Regions from separate parts of the Homo sapiens genome. Here regions 2, 3, 4 and 5 are each linked to region 1. The links come from fine-mapping of genetic effects on gene expression. A gene starts in region 1. Each other region holds a variant in brackets. All regions are shown on one strand. Distances are from middle to middle. Region 1 holds the start of ADGRE1 (adhesion G protein-coupled receptor E1). Region 2 overlaps ADGRE1 (adhesion G protein-coupled receptor E1). Region 3 overlaps ADGRE1 (adhesion G protein-coupled receptor E1). Region 4 has its middle 26 kb from the start of ADGRE1. Region 5 overlaps INSR (insulin receptor).

Region 1 (5,129 bases):
ACTTTCTCTACCCCTTCAGGCATCTGCATTCTCTCTGGCCAACTTACCCTTTGTGTTTGGTTTCCGTGTGGGTCTTATGTGCCCTTCCCAGCTGTGCATAACACAACATCCTGTGAAGAAAGAAAAGAAAAACACCATGAACCACCAAAAAAAAAAAAAAAAAAAAAAACCTTTTGGGCTCAACCTGCAAAATTACTCCTGGCTTGGCCCCACAGAAATAGGTTTGAAGAGGCTAGATGACAAACCTAGTTAAGGAACAAACATACACTATTTTGCATAAGCTTAACAATGACCATTCCTGGTTTTCTGTACTTTGCTTTTGCTTTTCATTTTGTCTGTCTTTATCTTCTTTTTCTTTTTGATTAAATAGTTCCAGGCTAAGCACTGTGGTGCACACCTATAATCCCAGCCCTTCGGGAGGCCAAGGTGGGAGGATCACTTGAGACCAGCAGTTTGACACCGGCCTGGACAACACAGTGAGACTTTGTCTCTACAAAAAAAAAATTTTTTAAATTAGCTGGGTGGTGGTGACAACTTGTAGCCCCAGCTACTCAGGAGGCTGAGGTGGAAGGATTGCTTGAGCCCAGGAGATAGAGACTGCAGTGAGCCAAGATCATGCCACTGCGCTCCAGCCTAGGTGACCCTGTCTAAAAAAAAAAGTTCTAGCTGATTTTCAAAAACATACATTAAAGCATGCATTCTCAAAAGGGGTGATATATCCTCTAAGGACCCAAACTTGGTTCTCAGGAAGAGATCTTTTTAAGCTTACTCTTTTATGTATAAGATACATATGTATATATAGAAAATACATATATAGGTATACAGTATATCTGTAGTATTAACATTTCATGAGAGGGTAGGGCAATTCGTTTTTCTTTCCTTTTTTTTTTTTTTTTTTTTTTTGAGATGGAGTCTCACTCTGTCACCAGGCTGGAGTGCAGTAGCGTGATCTAGGCTCACTGCAACCACCAACTCCCTGGTTCAAGCTATTCTCCTGCCTCAGCCTCCCGAGTAGCTGGGATTACAAGCACGCACCACCACGCCCAGCTAATTTTTGCATTTTTAGTAGAAACGGGGTTTCTCCATGTTGGCCAGGATGGTCTCGATCTCCTGACCTCATGATCTGCCTGCCTCAGCCTCCTAAAGTGCTGGGATTACAAGCGTGAGCCACTGCGCCCTGCCCATTTTTTAGTGTTTAAAGGCAATGCAGCCCTGCAGCATTTAGGTCTCCTGCACCATCATCATTATCGCCATCATTATCACTATCATCATCACCATCATCATCTTCATCATCACCATCATCATCATCATTATTATCACCATCATCACCATTATCATCATCACCATCACCATTATCACCATCACCACCATCATCATCATCACCACCATAATCACCAACATCACCATCTTCATCGTCATTATCACACCATCATCACCACCATCATCATCATTATCCCTATCATCACCATTATCATCATCACCATCATCACCATCTTCATGGTCATTATCACACCATCATCATCACCATCATCTTCATTATCACTATCATCACCATTATCATCATCATCATCATCACCATCACCATCATCATCACCATTTTCATCATCACTATTATAACCACCACCATCATGATCATTATCATCACTATCATTATCACAACTCTTTGCTGATTATCTTCAGGGCAGAATAGGGAGTGTTAATGGTTAATACCATTGCCAACACCCCAAAATAACAACTCTGCATGCCTACATTTGATGTCCACAGGCCACCTATTTCTTCTAATGTAGCCTGCCAGTCAACAAGTCCCACAGATCTAAACTCCCAAATTCTATCTATTATTACTAACAAAAATTCTTCTACTCATTCATTAATTATTTTAGAGGTAATTCAGCATGCTGTTTAGGCATACAAAGTCTGAAGTCAAAGTGCTTAGGTTTAAAAATCTGGCTTCACCAATTAATGATTGCGTGGCCTTGAGGAAGTTATTTAATCTCTTTGTGCCTCAGTTTCCTCCTTGGTAAAATAGGGTATTCAGATCCACTCTTCAACAGCAGAGGAAACCCATACTTGCTACTTAGAATATGTCCCCAATATCCTCCATTCTTAAATTTGATCCAATGACCAAAACACACAAGACATAGAAGAAAAACCAGAAACACAGAAGATAAACAAGGCTGAGACAAACTGACACCTGAAGAAAGAGAAATAAGAGCACAGGAAGGGTCTATCTCATCCTTCAGGACTCAGCTCGAACTGCCCCTCCTCAACCCCAGACTTCTCCCTTCAACATAACTCCCGACCACATTCTATAACAACTTCTTTCATAGCACTTATCACTACCTGAAATTCCTATGTTTACTTATTTTTTGGGGCAACATAGTATAGTGGAAAAGCTTACAGACTCTGAAGTCAGACTGTCTGGCTTGAAATCCTGCCTCTACCCCTTATTGACTAAGTGGCCTTGGGAAAATTATTTTATCTCTTTTGCCTCAGTTTTCTCATTTGCAAAATAGGACTAATAATGACCCAATGTCATAGAAATGTTGTGACAATTGGATACACTCTATGTTTAAAGAAGTTACAGCAGTGCTAAGTGGGCTATGATCATCTGTGCCTTCTTTCCTGTCTGCTCCTACCCACTAGAATATCAGCCTCAAGAGTGCAGGAACTTAGTCTTTTTTTCTCACTGCTATATCCTCTAGTGCCTAGAACAGCACCTGACACACAGGACTTGCTCAGGTCAAATGAATGACTATAGAGAAAAATCTATCCTAACAGATGGACTTCCCTGAGCTATGGAATTTTGTCAAAGGTTCCCTGAATGAAGGTGTTTGCAGCATCCAGTCTGGACTTATGATCTCTTGGCTGGACCATCCATGGCCCTCCCATTTCTCCTGAAGTCTATTTCCAATCCAGGCCTCCCCTAGCCCCCCATTCAGCCTCACACTCACCCCAGAAGAGGAGCAGGTTGAAGCCACGCATTATGCTGTAGTTCTGTCATTCAAAGAAAAGAAACTTTTCTACTAACGCTGGGTTTTCAGTAACCAGAAGGTGTGCGAAGAGGGGAAGGCGGAGTCAGAGTTGCTCAATGCTGCCTGGTCATCATAGCCCTTTTTGCTGACTTGCTGCAACTAAAAGACAGCCTAGAAAATCCTAATTTCCCCCTTTCTTCACAATAAAGAGAAGTTAATCTGCCTAATGTATATCATTCTCTCTCTCTCTCCTTCCCATGGTCTCTCCCTTTTTCTTTCCCATCAACATCTATCTCCCATCTCTCAACACCTTCTTTCATTGCACCCAATAAAGGAGCTTCCGCTTCCTGCCTCCAGTGAAGCAAATCTCAGCCTTTAGGGTCTCTTCCCAGTCTCCCGTATAAAGACAGCCATCACAACCATCATGTACCAGGCAGTGTGCTAGGCACATTGGCAACAAAGTGTAATTTCATTATCATGTTAACCTTGTAAAGTAGGAATTCCCCTCCCTCCCTCTATTCACCAACAAAATGGAAACTGAGACTTGCAGAGGAGTTATAACTTGTCCAAGATCTCTCAGACTTGAGATTTGAACCCAGGACCCTCTGATTCCAGAGTCAAGAGCTTTAACCATCTTATTTTCCTTCAGATCTCAACTCTGTCTGACGATTATACAGCAACACTTCCACCCCATTCCCAGCTTCCTAACTCTCTCTGGTAACATCTTAGGGTCTCACAAGGGCAGACCCTCAGACAAGGATTCTAGCAAAAGTAGTTTATCAAGAAGGTGGCCCCAGAAAGCACCAGCTGGGGGAGGAGAAAGTGAATCAGGAAAGGCAAAGAGCCAATACTGGGTGTGTCTTCAAATAAGTTACATGGTGAGAAAGTGGAACTTAACCTCCCCAGGGATGACTGGGGAGCGGCATGGAACATACTCTTCAGTTATTCCAACCGAGGGGTGAGGGAGCTGAGGTATTTATATCCCACCTACTGTCAGTCATGGGTTGACTTGAGGCTTGCTCCTAGAGGGTGTCAACCCCTTGAATCTTCAGGCCTGGCCTCCAAGCAGATAGAATGGGCTCCAGTTGATGTAATCCCACTGATAACAAAGTGTAGTGACTGGCAGATATTGAAGCAGTGTCATCCATCTGGGGTAATACCCGAGGTTCATTGCCTCACACCAAGGAAATAGAAAATACAGACATGGCCGGGCACCGTGGCTCACACCTGTAATCTCAGCACTTTGGGAGACTGAGGAGGGTGGATTACGAGGTCAGGAGTTCAAGACCAGCCTGGCCAAGATGGGGAAACCCCGTCTTTACTAAAAATACAAAAAATCAGCCAGTGTGGTATGGTGTTAGGCACCTGTAATCCCAGCTACTCCGGAGGCTGAGGCAGAGAATTGCTTGAACCCAGGAGGCGGAGGCTGCAGTGAGCCGAGATCGTGCCACTGCACTCCAGCCTAGGCAACAGAGTGGGACTCTGTCTTAAAATAAAATAAAATAAAATAAAATAAAATAAAATAAAATAAAATAAAATAAAATGCAGACACACAAAAAATTACTTTTAGAGCAGAGGTTTAGGCCGAGCACAGTGGCTCATGCCTGTAATCCCAGCACTTTGGGAGGCTGAGACGGGTGGATCACCTAAGATCAGGAGTTTGAGACCAGCCTGGGCAACATAGTGAAACCCCATCTCTACTAAAAATACAAAAATTAGCCAGGTGTGGTGGCTCATGCCTGTAATTCCAGCTACTCAGGAGGCTGAGGCAAGAGAATCGCTTGAACCCGGGAAGCAGAGGTTGCAGTGAGCCGAGATTGTGCCATTGAACTCCAGCCTGGGTGACAGAGCAAGACTCCATCTCAAAAAAAAAAAAAAAAAGAAAGAAAGAAAAGAAATTTAATAGGCGAGAGAAAGAGAAAAGCTCTCTCTCCTGCAAAGAGAGGGGGCTCCCAAGTGGGTCTTCCAGTTTCATGGTGAAATGCACGGGGTTTTATAGATGAGCTTTAGGTGGTGATATCTGATTTACATAAGGGCCCAAAGATTAGTTGGACCAGGTGTGCCGTTTACATAGAGTACAAAGAAGCTGGCTGCCCACCCTAATATTTTATTATGCAGATGGGGTCTCTACCTGGCCAGGACCATGTTGCCTGTTCC
Region 2 (5,000 bases), 41 kb before region 1:
GCACAAAACCTCTGTGGAGGAATATAATTTCAAGCATTCCCAAGACTTAGATCAGTCAAGTAAACATTACAAATGAAACTAGGCACAGAAAGACACATTTCACATGTTCTCAGTTCTTTGTGGGAGCTAAACATTTAAAACAGGTGAACTCATGGAGCTAGAGAGTAGAACAGCAGTTACCAGAAGCTGGGAAGGATAGTGAAGGGGTGGGTGGGGAACAGGGAAGAGGGGATGGTTAATGGGTACAAAAAAATAGAAAGAATGAATAAGATCTAGTATTTGTTAGCAAAACAGGGTGACTATAGTTAATAATAATTGCATTGTAGATTTAAAAATAACCAGGAGAGGCTGGACACAGTGGCTCATGCCTGTAATCCCAGCACTTTGGGAGGTCGAGGCGGGTGGGTCACCTGAGGTCATGAATTCGAGACCAGCCTGGAAAACATGGCGAAATCCCGTCTCTACTAAAAATACAAAAAATTAGCTGGGCGTGGTGGCGCACACCTGTAATCCCAGCTACTCGGGAGGCTGAGGCAGGAGAATCGCTTGAACCCAGGAGGCAGAGACTGCAATGAGCTGAGATCATGCCATTGCACTGCAGCCTGGGTGACAGAGCAAGACTCTGTCTCAAAATAAAAATAAAAATAAACCAAACAATAAAACAAAACAAAAACCAGAAGAACATAATTGGATTGTGTGTAACACAAAGGACAAATGCTTGAGGGGACAGATACCTCGTTGACTCTGATGTGATTATTATGTATTCTGTGCCTGTATGAAAATATTTCATATACCCCATAAATATATACACTTACTTTGTGCCCACAAAAATTAAAAATAAAAAAAAATTTAATCCTCGAAAAATATGACAAAAGACATAAGGGAATGAGCCACCATGAGTGAGAGTCAGAAGAATCATCATCTGGCAGGGCTGTCAAGTCTGGATGGAGGTTGGGAGGCAAAGAGATGGGTGTTTAACATTCCCTGGCCTCCCTTTGCCTCGATCCACCATTTCCCTCTGTCATCTCACTCCTTCCCCCACAATTCCTCCTAATTTCTTTTTACTTTTTCTTTCATTCAACATCTGTGCCTAGGAGATGACATAGGATTTAAAAAAGATTTATTTAGGCAGATAGTGAGGGTAAGGAAGTCCTCGGTAAGGTTTTCCTTTTAATGAAAAGCAGCTCCCAAATCATTTTCTTTTCTAATGGAGAGCAGCCGGTAGAATCGAGCTATAGACATAGAAAGGCAAGCTAGAAGCTTGCATGGGTGAATGCTGGCAGTTGTGCCAATAGGAAAGCGGTTACCTGGGGAATAGGCATGTTCAAAATGGCAGCTCTGGCTGGGCGCAGAGACTCACGCTTGAAATCCCAGCACTTTGGGAGGCTGAGGCAGGTGGATTAACTGAGGTTAGGAGCCTGGTCAACGTGGTGAAACCCCATCTCTACTAAAAGTACAAAAATTAGCTGGTCATAGTGGCATATGCCTGTAATCCCAGCACTTGGGGAGGCCGAGGCAGGCAAACTACGTGAGGTCAGGAGTTTGAGACCAGCTTGGCCAACGTGGTGAAAACCCATCTCTATTAAAAATACAAAATTGCCGGGTGTGGTGGTGCGTGCCTGTAATCCCAGCTATTCGGGAGGCTGAGGCAGAATAATTGCTTGAACCCAGGAGGCAGAGGTTGCAGTGAGCCGAGATTGCACCACTGCACTCCAGCGTGGGTGACAGAGTGAGACTCCGTCTAAAAAAAAAGAAAAAAAAAATGGCAGCTCCGTCTTCCCTTTTCTTTGTAAACCATGTAGACAGTAAGGAGAAGACAACATGGTGCCAGCCAAGTAAAGACCCCATTTGCATAATAAAAGATCAGGGTGGGTGGCCAGCTTCCTCGCGCTCTACGTAAATGTCACACTGGGTCCAACCAATCTTTGGGCCCTATGTAAATCAGACACCGCCCCCTCAAGCCAGTCTAAAATCTGTTGCACTTTGCTGCGGGCCAGAAGTCCCACTCAGGAGGCCCTCTCTCTTGCAAGACACAGAGAGCTAGTCTCCTTTCTCTTTCTTTTGCCTATTAAACCTCTGCTCTTAAACTCACTCCTTGTGTGTGTCTGTGTCCTTGATTTCCTTAGCATGAGGCAACGAACCTCAGGCATTATTACCCCCAGACAATGACACTGCTTCAGAGAGACTCATGGACC[T/G]GTGCACAAGACGGATACAATTATGGTCCCTCCCAGGGGTATTTGCCTTTCAGAAGGAAAAACAAAATTCCCAAGTCAAAGAAATTACTCTGTAACTTCGAAATCTCAAGAATGAAGGATTGGAAGGGAGAACTTTTTTTTTTTTTTTTTGAGATGGAGTTTTGCTCTTGTTGCCTAGGCTGGAGTGCAATGGCGCAATCTCGGCTCACCGCAACCTCTGCCTCCCTGGTTCAAGCAATTCTCCTCTCCTGCCTCAGCCTCCTGAGTAGCTGGGATTACAGGCATGTGCCAACACACCCAGCTAATTTTGTATTTTTAGTAGAGATGGGGTTTCTCCATGTTGGTCAGGCTGGTCTTGAACTCCTGACCTCAAGTGATCCTGGGCCTCTCAAAGTGCTGGGATAACAGGCATGAGCCACCGCAACCTGGCCGATAACTTATTTATTTATTTTTTTTTTTTTGAGACGGAGTTTCACTCTGTTGCCCAGGCTGGAGTACAGTGGCATGAATTTGGCTCACTGCAACCTCCATGTCTCCTGGATTCAAGCGATTCTCCTGCCTCAGCCTCCTAAGTAGCTGGGATTACAAGTGCTCGCCACCACACCCAGCTAATTTTTTGTATTTTTAGCAGAGATGGGGTTTCGCCAAGTTGGCCAGACTGTTCTCGAACTCCTGACCTCAGGTGATCCACCCGCCTCAGCCTCCCAAAGTGCTGGGATTACAGGCGTGAGCCACCACGCCCGGCCTGGAAAGGAGAACTTTTGATGGGAATAAGTGACCCTCTCAGCTGCACACGTCCCTGGAAATTCCAGATCTCGCAGGTCTCCTTGCTCCTCCTTCAGAACACACTTCGCCAGGCTGTTGTAGTATTTGCTTACCACTATAACTGTGCAAACTGGCCCCAAGAAACTCCAGATGAACCCTGTCTCTGTATTCAGCCAGCAGCTGTGGAGAGAAATAGGAGGAGTCAGCGCTTGTCTCAGAGTCCTGACCTTACAGTTAACCCTGTCCCAACAAATGCCCTAGTGGAGGAGAACACTGGGAGGTGAGACTCAGATGATGCTCAGGATGGTCCCGGTTGCAGTTCAGTTTCCTTTAGATCACTGCGCTTCCTCTTTTAGACCTTCTTCCTGGGCAAATGTACCTGAAATGTTTACCTAGTGCCCAAGGTTGAGCTCATTTCCCAATTCACAACTTTGTAATCCTGTTTCCCTCTATGCAGAACTCTCCACTGGTACACCTTATCATTCAAATCTCAGCTCAGGCCGGGCGTGGGGTCTCACGCCTGTAATCCCAGCTACTTGGGAGGCTGAGATAGGAGAATCGCTTGAACCCAGGAGGTGGAGGTTGCAGTGAGCTGAGATCACGCCACCGCACTCCAGCCTGGGTGACAAGAGCAAAACTCTGTCTCAAGATAAATAAATAACAAATAAATAAATAAATAAATAAATCTCAGCTCAAATGTCACCTCCTCTGAGAAGCCACTCCTGACTATCCTTAGATAGGGCAACCTGTCTCTGCTCCTGGTATCCATCTAGCAGAGCTCACTGCATTTTTAAAACAGCAGCTATCACTATCGTAAGTTACCTTGTTTAATTGCTTGTGTAACTGCAAACTGTCTTCCACTACTAGACTATGAGTTTCATGAGAATTTGGGCCTTAGGTGTTTGTTCATCTCTGAATACTCAGCACTCAGAGCACAGCCTAGCATAGACAAGATATTTCATAAAATTGTTTATTCGAAGAAAGGAAGGAAAGAAGGAAAGAAGGGAGGGAGGAAGGGAGGAAGAGAGGGAGGGAGGGAAGGGAAGGAAGGCAAGGAAGGAAGGGAGGGAGGGAGGGAGGAAGGAAGGAGGGAGGGAAGAGGGGAGGGAGGAAGAAGGGAGGAGGGAGGGAGGGAGAGTGGGAGGGAGGAAGAAAGGATTGGCTCCTTTTATTATGTCTCTAGTGTACATTAGCTGCTTTTACAACACAACAACCATTCCGTCATGTTCAATAACAGCACCCCAATATTCCCCCCACTTTTTTCTGAGATGAAGTCTCGCTCTTGTCCCCCAGGCTGGAGTGCAATGATGCCATCTCATCTCACTGCAGCCTCCGCCTCCCGGGTTCAGGTGATTCTTCTGCTTCGGCCTCCCGAGTAGCTGGGATTACAGGTGCACACCACCATGCAGAAGTATTCCTTTCCCACTTTCACCCCCACCACCCCCCATGTCATACACGCAAGAAAAGGAAAATAATCAAGTTAGGTAAACCAGATGTTCTCTTCCTGGAACATAAACCTCAAATAGTAGTGATCCTGGATTTGTGCAGTGCACAACCCATGCTGCTGTACATGGTGGTCCTGAAACCAATAGTACATAATAGAAGAGCTCGATAAATGGTAGCCACAACTACTGCTACTGTTGTTACTCTTCTTGTTGCTCATGTCATTATCACCATAAGCCCTGGCAGCAGGGTCTTCAGGAAGAGAGAGGATGTCACTCACCGATTATGCATTCCATAGCCCTGTGGCTGCACACTGGCAGAGATCACCACCACCAGCATCGGCAGCCCATAACCAAAGGCACAGATGTGCAGCATCTTGATGTTGCGAGAGCTGAAGTAATTCACCACCTTCAGGTTTCTGACCATCAAGAACAGTATCACAGCCTCCACCAGCATCCAGAAGAAGCAGGCAAGGAAAAGGTAGTGCAGGAAGCCCGCGATGATGGCGCAGCCCATCTGGAGGGGAGAAGCATGCGCATCAGAATCCTCCACCCCAGAGAGAAATCGAAAGGAAGAAAGGAAGAGAGAGACTCCTCG
Region 3 (5,129 bases), 53 kb before region 1:
TTTTGTATTTTTAGTAGAGACGGGGTTTCATCGTGTTAGCCAGGATGGTCTCAATCTCCTGGTCTCATGATCAGCCTGCTCCGACCTCCCAAAGTGCTGGGATTACAGGCGTGAGCCACAGCACCCGGCCAATAAATATTTTTTGAGTGAATGGATCTGTAATTTTCTGTACACAATTATTTGGATTATAAGATAGCAAAGTTATTTCACATTATATTCATGGGATTTGCAGCCACTTAGGGTTTTCCATATATAATATCTGTACATATTTATGGGGTACATGTGATATTTTGTTGCATGCAGAGTTTGCAATGATAAAGACAGGGTATTTGGGGTGTCCACCATCTTGATCATTGATCATTTCTAGCTGTTGGAAACATTTCAAGTTTTCTCTGCTAGATATTTTGAAATATGCAATACAGTGTTGCTAACAATAGTCACCCTACTCTACCAGTGAACTTCAGAACGTATTTCTTCTACTCATGCATTTTTTTTTTTTTTTTTTTTGAGATGGAGTCTCGCTCTGTCACCCAGGCTGGAGTGCAGTGGCACGATCTCGGCTCACTGCAAGCTCCACCTCCCGGGTTCACGCCATTCTCCTGCCTCAGCCTCCCTAGTAGCTGGGACTACAGGCGCCCACCACCACGCCCGGCTAATTTTTTTGTATTTTTAGTAGAGTCGGGGTTTCACCGGGTGAGCCAGGATGTTCTCAATCTCCTGACCTCGTGATCCGCCCGCCTCAGCCTCCCAAAGTGCTGGGATTACAGGCGTGAGCCACCGCGCCGGGCCGCATTTTTTTTTTAATTGTCTCCTTTCTCCCTCTAGCGGAGACATATGAGACCACAAGGGTAAAAAAAATGTACCAAGTATAGCTTGATGTGTGTAGTACGAAAAAAATCCTGCATGGAGGTCACACCTTTATCCACTTACCTTAGAAATATAGAGCTTCTTAAGGTGACTATATTTCAGACCAACATGTAACACCGTTGTACAGACAGACAAAGCCTTAGGCAAATCTTCTCTCAGGAAAAAACTTTATTCAAGTAGTACAGAATTTATTATCCTGATATCTCAGAAGAAATTGAGATCAAAATTCTTTCTTTTTACATTCCAAATTGTTGCAGTCCAATGCAGAATGTTGACCATACTTTGGTTGTTGTATCCATCAGCAATTGCTACAAATAAATGCTTCATAACAAATAACTCCTGAAACTCAGTGTCTGAAAAATGATACTTTCTTGCTGCTCCTCAGTCTGTTTATGGGTTGGCTGAGCAGGTCTGCTGATGTTGGCTGGGCTCTCTCCTGTGATTAAAGCAGCAAGTTGGCATGGTGGCTGGCTGAGGACAACCTCCACCAGTGTAACTGCGGTGACTTACCCTTCATTCTGTGTTTCTCATGTCCCTCCAGCAGGCGGGCTTGGGCATGTTCACATGGTGGGGGTAAGGAAGCAAGGTGAGCAAATGTAATCGTGTAACTGGTAAGAAGGATTACACATACGATTTTGAAACTTACGTTCCAGTCACATTTCCTAACCTTCCACTGGCTGCAGCAAATCTCAAGTCCAACCCCAGAGTCAGACAAGGAGAGAGTTACAAAGTTACAGGAAAGGGATGTGGCTAAATGGAGACCATTATTGGGCCCATTGATGCCATTGACCTATGACAATTGGCTATGGATAGGAGCAGTGCCATCTCTTGCTTCCATCTCTCTAAGAACTATCACCTCTGTATTGAGCACTCTGGATAAGCCAAGCGTTGAAGACTAATTTATCATAGATGAACTCTTGTTCACAAACATGTGTCCCACCTCCCAAGTTAGGCTGCCAAGAATAACAAAGACAGAGCCTCCATCAACTGAGTTTAATATTGTTAACAAATTGTCCAGTGCATGATATGACTGAGCTAATTGAATCCTAACTGCTTAGGTGACTCAGAGTAAATATTATTCTAGTCTCTGTAACCCTAAACTAAGTATTCCTGGCACGAAAGGAAGAGAAAAAGGGGAACAAGGCATCTGGAGAAGGAGCTTTATGGTCAAGAGCTCAAAACCCAGCTCAACGACCTATGTGGCTGTGTGATCCTGGGATAGTCACTTAACCTCTCTGAGCTTCAGTTCCCCTGTCTTCAAAATGAAGAGTAATCATTCTAATCATTCATTCATTCATTCATTCAACATATTTGTTGAGACGCTACTTAATGCAAATCTCTGTACTTACGAAGCTCACAGTCTATGTTGGAGACACCCAACAAAAAGAGAAATCATAATACAGGGTGAGAAAGCATGAAGCTTTTTGGCACACACAAAAATAATGCCAAATTCTACTGTAGGAGATTCAAAGAATGCTTCCTAGCAGAGGGGATGACTACACTGCAACTCAAAGAGACAGAAGACATCAATTGAGTTTTCAGGGAAGTTATTCTAAGAGAAGATGCAAAGGGTCCAAGTCAAGAAGAAGACATTTCTCTCTGGCTTTAAAGACAAGCTCTGCTGTCAGCATGGCAAACAGAAGAATGTTCTACAATAGTGCTTTTCAGACACCCATGGTTATATTCATCCCCTGGGGATGTTAACATGCAAGTCCTGATCTAGGAGGTCTGGAGTGGGGTCTGAGATTCTTCTTTGCTTTTCTAACAAGCTCTCAGGTGATGCTGATGATCCAGGGACCACGCTTTGGATTGGGAGGTTTTA[C/G]AGTGCCCATAGAAGTGAAAATACCTGCATTTAAACCTTCATCTTCTTCTCTCCCAAGCTCAAGAATTTAAGGATGGTGGCCGGGCGCAGTGGCTCATGCCTGTAATCCCAGCACTTTGGGAGGGTGAGGCGGGTGGATCATCTGAGGTCAGGAGTGCAAGATCAGCCTGGCCAACATGCTGAAACTCCGTCTCTACTAAAAATACAAAAATTAGCCAGGCGTGGTGGTGCACGCCTGCAGTCCAGCTACTTGGGAGGCTGAGGCAGGAGAATCACTTGCACCCGGGAGGCAGAGGTTGCAATGAGCCGAGATCATGCCACTGCACTCTGGCCTGGGCAACAGACCGAGACTCTGTCAAAAAAAAAAAAAAAATTAAGGATAGGTAGCGATAACTGTGATAGAGAAAATCCTAAATCCTAGCCAAGTCATTAGAAAGTTTCTAGAAAACAGGGAGGTCTTGGTTACCTGAAGGACCTCAGGAAACCAAAGCACTTTCCAAAGGTTGTTGTCACCAAGTGCTTCAACCCTCCAGGGAGTGCTAGAATTCTGCTACATCAAACATCCCCCTACTTACCAACACAACTATTTTTAAGTGTTTGTGCCAAAGTAGCTTATCTGTCTATGTGCCGTCTTGGTTCCCTGGGACTCTCATTACAGTTTTACTGACCATTTCTTTAAAATCACAAAGAGTCTTTATCCTAGGGTAAATCAGTCAGACAGGCGACAAATCATTTATTGAGAGGTTCTCTGTATCAGGCGTATGATAGGCTCTGGAGGGGCATGCTTAGAACCATGCACCAACAAGGGCAGGAGAAAACAAAATGGTAGCCAGGTGTTCTTGGTCATGCCATTGAATTTGGGTCTGTTCTCAGAAACTCTGGAATTGAAGAAGTTGCAGAGCACGAAGATAAAATGGTCGTTTGGAGCAGAAACGCCTGATTTCTCATCAGTGCATACAACCACAGGAAGACCGCCCCCAACATTCTTCCCCAGAGGGTTCTGGGGCTGGTGGGATCCTCATTTCCATGTTAAGCTGAGAAGAGATTTCAGGGTAGGCTCCTGCAGGAAACTACTGTCCTCAACTGTGGCTCCATAGCATATTTGAAAGCAAGAAAGGACTTTAACCCTGTGAGAGAGAAAAGAATTTCCTCAGAGTCTGCAGCAGAATTAATACAAACGTGATTCCAAGGGTCATGTCTACAGGGACAGAAGTATTAAAAATACAGTAACAAAGACTAGAAGGATAAACACTAAAATGTTAAATGCGATTGTCCCTAGTGTGGCAGGCAGAGTTGGAAAACCCAAAAGCCATTCTCAACCTCCTCAGCATTGACAGCGCCCACTCTGGACTTTAGGAAGCCAAACAGCTGTTGGTTCAAAATTTTTTGCCCATATGAGTGGTCACATGATACACTTCTGACCAATTAGGTAAAGGGAAATCTGAGAGTTTTCTGGGCTTTCATTTACTGTTAAAGACAAAGACATGAAAGAAGGGCTTTCTGGTCCTGTCCATCCCTCTTCTTCTTGACTTGAACATAGTCATGATGTCTGGAGCTGTGGCAACCATATTGCAACCATGAAAATACAATAAAATGTCAACATGTTGATGGTGGAATGGAAAACTGGGGAAAACCCAGATTCTTAGTTTAGAGCCTTTACAACACCACTAAGCATAGAACCAGCAACACCAGCAATATTCGCAACACCTAATTCTGGACTTCTTGCAAGGAAAATCATTTCCCTATTTAATTAAGCCACTGGATCTAAGGTGCTTGCATCCAAAAATATGACTCACTGGGATCTGTATGTGGTGGGATAATGGGAAATTTTATTTGTTTTCAATGCTTACAAATGTTTTCTAAAATGTTCTATACCTATACTGTCTTTTTCATTAAAACTATAGTAAACTGCATTATGTTTAAAAATGTATTGCCAAGAGAATATGTCATCCATGATATGGGCAATTTTTCCAGTGGGGTGATTCCTGTGGCTCATTCTGAAATCACTGGACTTAACCTCTATGACATTCGGTTTCCTCATAATGAAAATAGACCAGCTGGGCGTGGTGGCTCACACCTGTAATCCCAGAACTTTGGGAGGCTGAGGCAGGTGGATCACCTGAGGTCAGGAGTTCGAGACCAACCTGGCCAACATCATGAAACCCTGTCTCTACTAAAAATACAAAATTTATCTGGGTGTGCTGGCGGGCGCCTGTAATCCCAGCTACTTGGGAGGCTGAGGCAGGAAAATCGCTTGAACCCAGGAGGCAGAGGTTGCAATGAGCCAAGATCACACCACTGCACTCCAGCCTGGGTTACAGAGCGAGACTCCATCTCAAAAAAAAAAAAGAAAAAAAGAAAGAAAGAAAGAAAGAAAAAAGAAAATAGAGCAGTGATACCTACCTCACTGGACTTCTGCAAGGCTTAACACTGAGATCCT
Region 4 (5,129 bases), 27 kb after region 1:
TCGGGAGGCTGAGGGAGGAGAATCACTTGAACCTGGGAGGTGGAGGTTGCAGTGAGCCAAGATCACACCATTGCCCTCCAGCCTGGGCGACAGAGTGAGACTCTTTCTCAAAAATAAATAAATAAATCACCCCCACACCACGGCTCCCCAAATCCTGCAGCTTAGAGCTCAAACATCCAAACCTGACTTCTGAGGCCCCCTAACAGCCTTCTCTTTGGAAACAGTCTAATCAGAGAGTTTGAGACACTGAAGCCAAATCACCGAAGGCCACCAGAGGGCACTACATAGCTTCAAATTGGTGCTGTGGGGTTACAATGGGCAAGATACGCGGAACTTGGTTCCGCGGCTCAAATGCCAGGACAATGCGGAAGTGTTGGCTGCCTAAGAACAAGTCCCGCCTTGCGTGAATGGTACCCATGAAATATGACAGCTCCCTATGTGACAATCTGCCTCGCGCCTCACTTCATTGCCTGGAATTCCACCATTAGGGAGTCATTCCTTTGGATAAAAAATGTTCCTCTGGAAAAAAAAAAAAAAAGTTCCTCTGGGCCGGGCGCGGTGGCTCACGCCTGTAATCCCAGCACTTTGGGAAGCCGACGCGGGCGAATCACCTGAGGTTAGGAGTTCGAGACCAGCCTGGCCAACATGGTGAAACCCCATCTCTACTAAAAATACAAAAATTAGCTGGGCGCTGTAATCTCAGCTACTCGGGAGGCTGAGGCAGGAAAATCGCTTGAACCTGGGAGGCGGAGGTTGCAGTGAGCCAAGATCGCGCCACTGTGCTCCAGCCTGGGAGACAAGAGCGAGACTCGGTCCCACCCCCACCCGCCCCCCCCACAAAAAATGTTTCTCTTCCAGAAAATATTAAATAGTTCAAGTTGAGACCCCTAGAAAGCACTAGAAATTAAAGACGTGGGAAGAATCCTCAGACCACAGAAAACAGCTGTAGGTGGAGACCCTTCCACCTACTTTGTATTTCTCTGCCTTCTCAACAATATGAACGTGTTTGGCTGCGGACGTTGGCTCACGCCTGCAATGCCAGCGCTCTGGGAGATTGCGCTATCGAGGTGGCGCACTACTGCTGCTGTCCATCAGGGGGCAAGCGCGGCTTTAATTTGTGGCTGTCTGCGGTGGGACTGCCTGGCGATGTGTCTGTGTGATGTTTAGGAATGTCCCTGTTTGATCTAGTGGGTGTCTGTCTGACGGCGTTTGAAGTCTATATCCGCTGATTTCATTTGTCTTTATCAGTGTTTGTAAATTCTTAGGGCTGGGGGTAGGAGTGAGTGAGTGTGTGTGTGTGTGTGTGTGTGTGTCTGTCTGTCTGTATTGGGGGCTGTCCGTTGTACATTCACCATGTTGGCCAGGCTGGTTTCGAACTCCTGAGCTCAAGTGATCCACCTGCCTCGGCCTCCCAAAGTGCTAGGATTATAGGCATGAGCCACCACGCCCGGTCTCCCAACAACTTTTCACCCACCCCACCCCCACTTTCCTCCCTCTCCAAGCAAAATGAGCCCCTTGAAGTTTCCAGAACCTACCAGGATCACTATCATTTGCCCCTCTCCCTAAAAAACTTTCCCTTCATTATTTATTATTATTATTATTGAGTCTCACTCTGTCGTCCAGGCTGGGGTGCAGTGGTGCAATCTCAGCTCACTGCAATCTCTGCCTCCCAGGTTCAAGTGATTCTCCTACCTCAGCCTCCCGAGTAGCTGGGATTACAGGCACCTGCCACCACACCGGCTAATTTTTGTATTTTTAGTAGAGATGGGGGTTTCACCATGTTGCCCAGTCTGGTCTCGAACTCCTGACCTCAAGTGATCCGCCGCCTCGGCCTCCCCAAGTGCCGGGATTACAGACATGGACCACCGTGCTAGGCTGTCCCCTCATTTATTTTCTAGGTGACTCCATCCAGCTGATTATACAGTTGCCACCTTAGATGTTTCCTCCTCCAGGAAGCCCTCCCTGACCATCCTCCCCTACTCAAGCCTGGGTTAGATCTGTATTTGCTCCCACAGCCACCTGTGTTCCTTATGAAATTCATCAACTCTGTGTTATAATTGCCTGGTTGATTGTTAAGTCCCCTACTGGATTATACGTGCTTTTCAGGCAGGTCTGCGCCTGAGTCATTCACACAGCCTGGGGCTGAAGGTGAGGGCCACCCAGGAACTCCAAGAACAAGTCCATGACCTCAACCTCACCAACACCCTGAACTAGACAGCCCAGGTAGCCACCTTAGGCCATAGGTAGGTTCATGGTGTGACTCTGGGGGAGTCACGGGAGGGGCAGAAACCCCCCGTCCTAGTTCCTGATCCCTTGTGACTGCATTGCTTCCTCCAACACCCATTTCTAGATTCATGGTTCCTCAAACATGAAAAACACTTCACTCCAGGCTTCAGAGGCTATATCCTGCACCTGGCCAGGTGTGTGCAGGTACCATCTAGGCGTTGGCTTACCTGGGGTTGCAGAGAGAGCTAGGATATACCAAGATCCCCACCCGGCACTAGAGTGACGGTTAAGA[G/A]CGTGGTTCTGTGCTTAGGTGCATACCGACTCTCTGCCTGTGGCGAGCTGATTTTATCTTTCTCTGGTTCAGAGAGGCGAAGTCTTTCCCAAAACTTTATAGCTAATTTCACAGGGGCACAGAGGACCTTAGAATCTCTTGGAGCCCTGACCACTATGCTCTATTTCATATAAAAATAAAAACTGGCCAGGCCCAGTGGCTCACGTCTGTAATCCCAGCACTTTGGGAGGCCGAGGCGGGCGGATCACAAGGCGAGGAGATCAAGACCATCCTGACTAACACGATGAAACCCCATCTCTACTAAAAATGCAAAAAATTAGCCGGGCGTGGTGGCGGGCACCTGTAGTCCCAGCTACTCGAGAGGCTGAGGCAGGAGAATGGCGTGAACCCGGGAGGCGGAGCTTGCAGTGAGCCGAGATCGCGCCACTGCCCTCCAGCCTGGGCGACAGAGCAAGGCTCCGTCTCAAAAACAAAAAAAACAACAACAACAAAAAGAAACCCGGCCGGTTGCAGTTGGCTCACGCCTGTAATCCCAGCACTCTGGGAGGCTGAGGTGGGCAGATCACGAGGTCAGAAGATCGAGACCATCCTGGCCAACATGGCGAAACCCCTGTGTCTCTACTAAAAATACAACTGTTAGCTGGGTGTGGCGGCGTGTGTCTGTAATCCCAGCTACTCGGGAGGCTGAGGCAGGAGAATCGCTTGAACTTGGGAGGTGGAGGTTGCAGTGAGCCAAGATTGCACCACTGCACTGCAGCCTGGCGACAGAGCTAGACTCCATCTCAAAAATAAATTAATAAATAATAAAATAAGATAAAATACCACGAAGCTGGCTGTGAGATTAATCTAGATACTGTGTAGGAAGTGCTTACTTTCATGGCGCCAGACAACACTGAATACTTGACACGGGAGGTGCCTCTGTTAGTAGTATGGTAGGGTAATATATTTGGAAGTATGAACTACTTTTTCCCAAATTAATTTATAGCCCATGATCCTTCCCCAGCCCTGTCAGCTTAGGCCAGCCCATCTTTTTGCCTCCTAAGGGTTATGCTAGCAGCCTGCAGATTTACCCAAAAAGCAACTCCCTGGCTTTTGTTGGTCAGTTGGTTACTTGGTTGTTTCTTTGCTTTGTTTTGTTTTTTGTTCTTTGTTTTTGTTTTTGTTTGAGATGGAGTTTTGCTCTGTCACCCAGGCTGGAGTGCAGCGGTGCAGTCTCATCTCACTGCAACGTCCCCCTCCCAGGTTCAAGTGATTCTCTTATCTCAGCCTCCCAAGTAGCTGGGATTACAGGTACCTGCCACCACGCCCGGCTAATTTTTGTATTTTTAGTAGAGATGAGATTTCACCATGTTGGCCAGGCTGGTCTCAAACTCCTGACCTCAAGTGATCTGCCCGCCTCGGCCTCCCAAAGTGCTGGGATTATAGGCGTGAGCCACTGTGACTGGCCTGGTTGGTTTTTAGAGATGAGGTCTCACTCTGTTGCCTAGGCTGGAGTGCAGTGGTGCAATCATAGTTCACCACAGCCTCCACCTCCTGGGCTCAAGCAATCCTCCCACCTCAGCCTCCTGAGTAGCTGGGACTACAGTTGTGTGCCACCATGCAGAGCTAATTTTTTTATTTTTTTTATTTTTTTATTTATTTTTTTTTTTTGTAGAGAGGAAGATCTTACTATTTTGTGCAGGCTGGTCTCGAGCTCCTGGCCTGAAGCAATCCTCTGCCCTCAGCCTCCCTGGCTTTTGAACTTCAAAATCTTCCTTGGAGATCCTGAATCTTAGTTTATGAGCATTAAAAGTCTAAGGGCTGGGCGCAGTGGCTCACGCCTATAATCCCAGCACTTTGGGAGGCCGAGGCTGGTCGATCACAAGGTCAGAAGATCGAGACCATCTTGGCCAACATGGGGAAACCCCGTTTCTACTAAAACTACAAAAATGAGCCGGGTGTGGTGGCGGGTGCCTGTAATCCCAGCTACTTGGGAGGCTGAGGTAGGAGAATCACTTGAACCCAGGAGGCGGAGGTTTCAGTGAGCCGAGATTGCGCCACTGTACTCCAGCCTGGGTGACAGAGCAAGACACCATCTCAAAAAAAAAAAAAAAAAAAATGCCAGGCGTGGTGGCTCATACCTGTAATCCCAGCACTTTGGGAGGCCGAGGCGGGTGCATCACGAGGTCAGGAGATCGAGACCATCCTGGCTAACAAGGCAAAACCCCGTCTCTACTAAAAATACAAAAAATTAGCCGGGTGTGGTGGCAGGCGCCTGTAGTCCCAGCTACTCGGGAGGCTGAAGCAGGAGAATGGCGTGAACCCAGGAGGCAGAGCTTGCAGTGAGCTGAGACCGCACCACTGCACTCCAGCCTGGGTGACAGAGCAAGACACCGTCTCAAAAAAAAAAGAAAAAAAAAAAGCTTAAGAAAATAAATTTCATGTAATGTATATTTTACTGCAATTTTAATAATTAATAAAGACTATTAAATAAAAAATGGCCAGGTGAGGTGGCTCACGCCTGTAATCCCAGCACTTTGGGAGGCCGAGGCGGGTGGATCACCTGAGGTCAGGAGTTCCAGACCAGCCTGGCCAACATGGTGAAACCCTGTCTCTTCTAAAAATACAAAAA
Region 5 (5,129 bases), 260 kb before region 1:
CACTAAACTAATAAAACATGTTGACATGCACTTCTCAGATGACACTCTAGATACAGATATTTTATTTATTTATTTATTATTTTTTTGAGACGGAGTCTCGCTCTGTCACCCAGGCTGGAGTGCAGTGGTGCCATCTCAGCTCACTGCAACCTCCACCTCCCAGGTTCAAGCGATTCTCCTGCCTCGACCTCCTGAGTAGCTGGGATTACAGGCATGCGCCACTACACCTGGCTAATTTTTGTATTTTTAGTAAAGACGGGGTTTCACCATGTTGGCCAGGCTGGTCTCGAACTCCTGACCTCAGGTGGTCTGCCTACCTCAGCCTCCCAAAGTGCTGGGATTACAGGTGTGAGCTGCCTGGCCTATTTTTATTGGTTATTTTACTTTATTTTTAGTAGAGACAGGGTTTCACCACATTGCCCAGGCTGGTCTTGAACTCCTGGGCTCACGTGATCCTCACACCTCGGCCTCCGAAAGTGCCAGGATTAAGGGTGTGAGCCACTGTGCTCGGCTATATTTTTAATCTTTTGAGACAGGGTTCTACTCTGTCACCCAGGCTGAAGTGTAGGGGTGCAATCATAGCTCACTGCAGCCTCGAACTCCTGGGCTCAAGCGATCCTCTCACCTGAGCCTCCCAAGTAGCTGGGACCACAGGCGTGAACCATAGTGTCTGGCTTTTTTCCAAAGCGGAGCTCAAATCTAGGCTCTGTCTCAGCTCAGCCTCTCTGAGAAGGCCCCCTTCACTGTGTGTGTGTGTGGTGCGTGTGTGGTGTGTGTGTGGTGTGTGGCGTGGGTGTGGTGGTGTGTGTGATTTGTGTGGTGTGTGGTGTGTGTGAAGTGTGTATGTGGTGTGTGTGTGGTGCGTGTATGGTGTGTGTGGGGTGTGTGGTGTGTGGTCTGTGGTGTGTGGCGTGGGTGTGTGTGGTGTGTGTGTGATTTGTGTGGTGTGTGTGCGGTGTGTGGTGTGGTGTGTGAGGTGTGCATGTAGTGTGTGTGTGGTGCGTGTATGGTGTGTGTGTGGTGCGTGTGTGTGGTGTGTGGTGTGTGTGGTGTGTGTGTGGTTGTGTGTTTGTGGTGTGTGTATGTGTGGTGTGTTGTGTGGTGTGTGTGGTGTGTGGTGTGTGTGTGTGGTTGTGTGTTTGTGGTGTGTGTATGTGTGGTGTGTTGTGTGATGTGTGTGGTGTGTGTGTGTGGGGGGGTGTGTGGTGTGTGTGTGTGTGGTGTGTGTGTGTGGTGTGTGTGTGTGTGGGGTGTGTGTGTGTGTGTATGTGTGTTCAGCCGCAGAGACTTGAGCCCCCCTTTTCTGTTTCTTTCTCCAGGGCTGAAGCTGCCCTCGAGGACCTGGTCTCCACCATTCGAGTCTGAAGATTCTCAGAAGCACAACCAGAGTGAGTATGAGGATTCGGCCGGCGAATGCTGCTCCTGTCCAAAGACAGACTCTCAGATCCTGAAGGAGCTGGAGGAGTCCTCGTTTAGGAAGACGTTTGAGGATTACCTGCACAACGTGGTTTTCGTCCCCAGGTCAGGACTTGGCGCTGGGCTCTCTTAGTGGGTGCCAATTGGCTTGGTGTTGGTGGAAGGTCATTACTTAGGGACCGAGAGGTAGTGGGACCCAGAGACGGCAGAAGGGTGGGTGGAGTCTGAATGGAGCCCTTTCCTGGGTGGAGGAAGAGATCTTGCAGTTTCGAAATTTCGAGGGGAATTTTATCAGGAAGAGCAAATAATCGCACAAAAGGGGAAAAATGGACAAAACTCAGCATTTGCCTTTCTTACCTCTCCTGAGCTGGTCTCCACGTGAGTTCCAAAACAAACTCCGTTAGACGATTAACATTTTTTTTTTTCTCTCTCTCTCTTTTTTTTTTTTTTTTGACAGAGTCTCACTCTATCGTCCAGGCTGGAGTGCGGTGGTGCGATTTCAGCTCACCCTTTCCGGGTTCGAGTGATTCTTGTGCCTCAGCCTCCCAAGTAGCTGGGACTACAGGTGCGCAGCACCACGCCCAGCTAATTTTTATATTTTTAGTAGAGACGGGGTTTTGCCATGTTGGCTAGGCTGGTCTCTAACCCCTGACCTCAGGTGATCTGCCTGCCTCGGCCTCCCAGAGTGCTGGGATTATAGGTGTGAGCCACCGTGCCTGGCCGTGATTATTGAGGCTTTAGCTGAGCGCAGTGGTGTAAGCCTGTGGTCCCAGCTAGTTGGGAAGCCGAGGTGGTAGGGTTGCTTGAGGCCAGCCTGGGCAACATAATGAGACCCCATCGCTACCAAAAAAAAAAAAAAACAGTTTAAAAATTAGTCAGGCATGGTAATGCATGTCTGAACTCCTAGCCCATGGGGAGGCTGAGAAAGAAGGATCACAAGAGGCCAGGAGATGGAGGCTACGATAAGCGATGATGGCGCCACTGCGCTCCAGCCTGGGTGACAGAGTGAGACCCTGTCTCTAAAAAAAAATTAAAAGTATCTGTTCAGATGTTTACCAATGCTATTCATCCGAGCAGACTTTTCTCCCAGAACCACCAGTGTGTAAGAATCCTCTTTTTTTTTTTTCTTTTCTTTTTCTTTTTTTGTTGCATGTTTCCCCTATGACCCTGAGTCCAAAAGAATGTTCAGGGGGACAGCCAAGGCTTCAAAGTGGTTACTGTTTCACCTGTTACAAACAAAATGTTGGCTAGGCACAGTGGCTCACTCGTGTAATCCCAGCACTTTGGGAGGCCGAAGTGGGAGAATCAGTTGAGGCCAAAGGTGGAGACCAGCCTGAGCAACAGAGTGAGACCCTATCTCTACTAAAAAAGGAAAAAAAAAAAAAAAATAGCCAGACATGTTGGTGCATGCCTTGTAGTCCCAGCTACTCCGGAGGCTGAGGCGGGAGAATTGCTGGAGCACAGGAGTTGGAGGCTGCTGTGAGCTATGATGGCACCATTGCACTCCAGCCTGGGCAACAGAGCAAGACCCTGTCTCAAAAAGGAAGGAAGGGAAAAAAAGAAAGAAAGAAAGGAATGGAGGGAGGGAGGGAAAGAGGAAGGAAGGAAGAGAGAAAGAAAAAGAAAGAAAGAAAGAAAGAAAGAAAGAAAGAAAGAAAGAAAGAAAGA[G/AAGAG]AAAGAAAGAAAGGAAAGAGAGAAAGAAAGGACAGAGAAAGGAAGGGGGCAAGGGAGGGAGAGAGGAGGGAAGGAAGGAAGGAAAAAAGGAAAAGAAAGAAAAGAAAGAGAAAGAAAATGAAAAAAAGAAGGAAGGAAAGAGAAAGAAAGCAAATGAAGGAAGGAAAGAGGGAAAAAGAGAGAAAGAAAGTAAAAGAGGAAAGAAGGAAGGAAGGAGAGAGAGGGAGAGAGAAAAGAGAAAGAGAAAAGAAAAGGAGAAAGAGGAAAGAAACCAGAAAGAGAGAGAGAAAGAAGAAAGAAGGGAAAGAAAAGAAAAATTCTGCCAGACTTGGAGAAGTGGCTGAGTCAGTTGTGATGTCCACATGTAGTCACGTTTGACATCCCAGGGCCACCTCAGCAGGCCGTCTCTGGGGAGAATTTTCTCTGATTTCTTCCCCTTCCCTTGCTGGACCCCTGCACCTGCTGGGGAAGATGTAGCTCACTCCGTCTAGCAAGTGATGGGAGCGAGTGGTCCAGGGTCAAAGCCAGGGTGCCCTTACTCGGACACATGTGGCCTCCAAGTGTCAGAGCCCAGTGGTCTGTCTAATGAAGTTCCCTCTGTCCTCAAAGGCGTTGGTTTTGTTTCCACAGAAAAACCTCTTCAGGCACTGGTGCCGAGGACCCTAGGTATGACTCACCTGTGCGACCCCTGGTGCCTGCTCCGCGCAGGGCCGGCGGCGTGCCAGGCAGATGCCTCGGAGAACCCAGGGGTTTCTGTGGCTTTTTGCATGCGGCGGGCAGCTGTGCTGGAGAGCAGATGCTTCACCAATTCAGAAATCCAATGCCTTCACTCTGAAATGAAATCTGGGCATGAATGTGGGGAGAAACCTTCACTAACACACTCTTGCTAAAACATAGAATCATGGGAGTGCTTCCTGGGTACCCCCTCCCTGCCTTCTGTTTGCAGCCACTGTTTGCTCACTAAACATCTCTGCACCTCCCGCGTGCATTTGCAGAGGTGGGTGGGGGTCCCCGGAGTCTGAGCTCCCCGCGGCTGGGTGCCCCGACCCAGCAGCTCCTACACCATGAATGGAGGTTGATCTGGAAACAGAATATTTTCATGAAAGGGCGACAGGGTATGAACAAAAGAACACCGTGTCGCTCACTGAATTCCACGGAGGAGAGTCAGGGATCTCTTCCTTCCTTCCTTCCTTCCTTCCTTCCTTCCTTCCTTCCTTCCTTCCTTCTTTCTTTTTTTCCTTCTTTCTTTCTTTCCTTCTTTCTTTTCTTTTCTTTATTCCCTCCCTCTCTCCCTCCGTCCGTCCCTCCCTCCCTTCCTTCTTTCCTTCTTCTTTTTTTTTTGGATGGAATTTCACTCTTGTTGCCCAGGCTAGAGTGCAGTGGTGCGATCTCGGCTCTCCACAACCTCCACCTCCCGGGTTCAAGCAATTCTCCTGCCTCAGCCTCCTGAGTAGCTGGGATTACAGGCATGCGCCACCACGCCCGGCTAATTTTTGTACTTTTAGTAGAGACAGGGTTTCTCCATGTTGGTCAGGCTGGTCTCGATCTCCCGACCTCAGGCGATCCGCCCGCCTCGGCCTCCCAAAGTGCTGGAATTACAGGCGTGAGCCACCGCCCCTGGCCAGGGACGTTTCTTTTCAACTTGAGTCTTAAGAGAATGAAGCAGTATGGTCCTGGGAGAGAGAAAAAGCTTGGAGAACTTGGGAGAAAGGCAAGGAGATGTTTACCTGTCGTGGCTTTTGGGAGGAACAGGAGGTGAGACTAAAGAGGCAAGTTGGGACCACTTGGAGAGATTTTCTTCCTTTAGCAGAGTGTTTATTTATTTATTTTTTCCCAGGCACCTGTGTGGCCTGATCTGCCCTCTAGTGGCCATTTGCAATACTAACTGTAGCCAAGAAGGGTCTAAAAATGTACGGGCTTGGTCCAAAGCAGATCTCAATCTCAGTCCTGCTATTAATAATATTCGGGTGGCTCACGCCTGTAATCCCAGCACTTTGGGAGGCCGAGGCGGGCGGATCATGAGATCAGAAGATCGAGACCATCCT

Evidence for each region. PIP is the estimated chance that this variant, and not a neighbour inherited with it, causes the effect.
Region 2: its variant is fine-mapped to the expression of ADGRE1 in whole blood (TOPMed, PIP above 0.99).
Region 3: its variant is fine-mapped to the expression of ADGRE1 in whole blood (INTERVAL, PIP 0.94).
Region 4: its variant is fine-mapped to the expression of ADGRE1 in testis (GTEx, PIP above 0.99).
Region 5: its variant is fine-mapped to the expression of ADGRE1 in CD4 T cells (Kasela 2017, PIP 0.95).

The regions. Positions count from the first base shown.
Region 1 is chr19:6,885,462-6,890,590 of GRCh38, reverse strand. ADGRE1 (adhesion G protein-coupled receptor E1) reads right to left here and starts at 3,012. Exons shown (of 21, transcript NM_001974.5): 1 at 2,952-3,012; 2 at 48-110. The coding sequence starts at 2,982. RefSeq lists an enhancer at 2,959-3,018.
Region 2 is chr19:6,926,285-6,931,284 of GRCh38, reverse strand. ADGRE1 (adhesion G protein-coupled receptor E1) reads right to left here. Exons shown (of 21, transcript NM_001974.5): 16 at 4,684-4,919; 17 at 3,074-3,140. The region is part of intron 1 of LOC105372256 (a long non-coding RNA gene); the gene reads left to right. Among named protein-coding and RNA genes, the nearest start is that of ADGRE1, 41 kb to the right of the region's middle. RefSeq lists an enhancer at 4,761-5,000. The variant T/G (reference allele first, on the strand shown) is at 2,196.
Region 3 is chr19:6,938,711-6,943,839 of GRCh38, reverse strand. It overlaps ADGRE1 (adhesion G protein-coupled receptor E1), which reads right to left. Exons shown (of 21, transcript NM_001974.5): 21 at 3,390-3,816. The coding sequence ends at 3,811. Among named protein-coding and RNA genes, the nearest start is that of ADGRE1, 54 kb to the right of the region's middle. The variant C/G (reference allele first, on the strand shown) is at 2,690.
Region 4 is chr19:6,858,901-6,864,029 of GRCh38, reverse strand. No RefSeq gene overlaps it. Among named protein-coding and RNA genes, the nearest start is that of ADGRE1, 26 kb to the left of the region's middle. RefSeq lists an enhancer at 887-1,026. The variant G/A (reference allele first, on the strand shown) is at 2,519.
Region 5 is chr19:7,149,118-7,154,246 of GRCh38, reverse strand. INSR (insulin receptor) reads left to right here. Exons shown (of 22, transcript NM_000208.4): 10 at 1,320-1,521; 11 at 3,715-3,750. Among named protein-coding and RNA genes, the nearest start is that of ZNF557, 82 kb to the right of the region's middle. The variant G/AAGAG (reference allele first, on the strand shown) is at 3,085.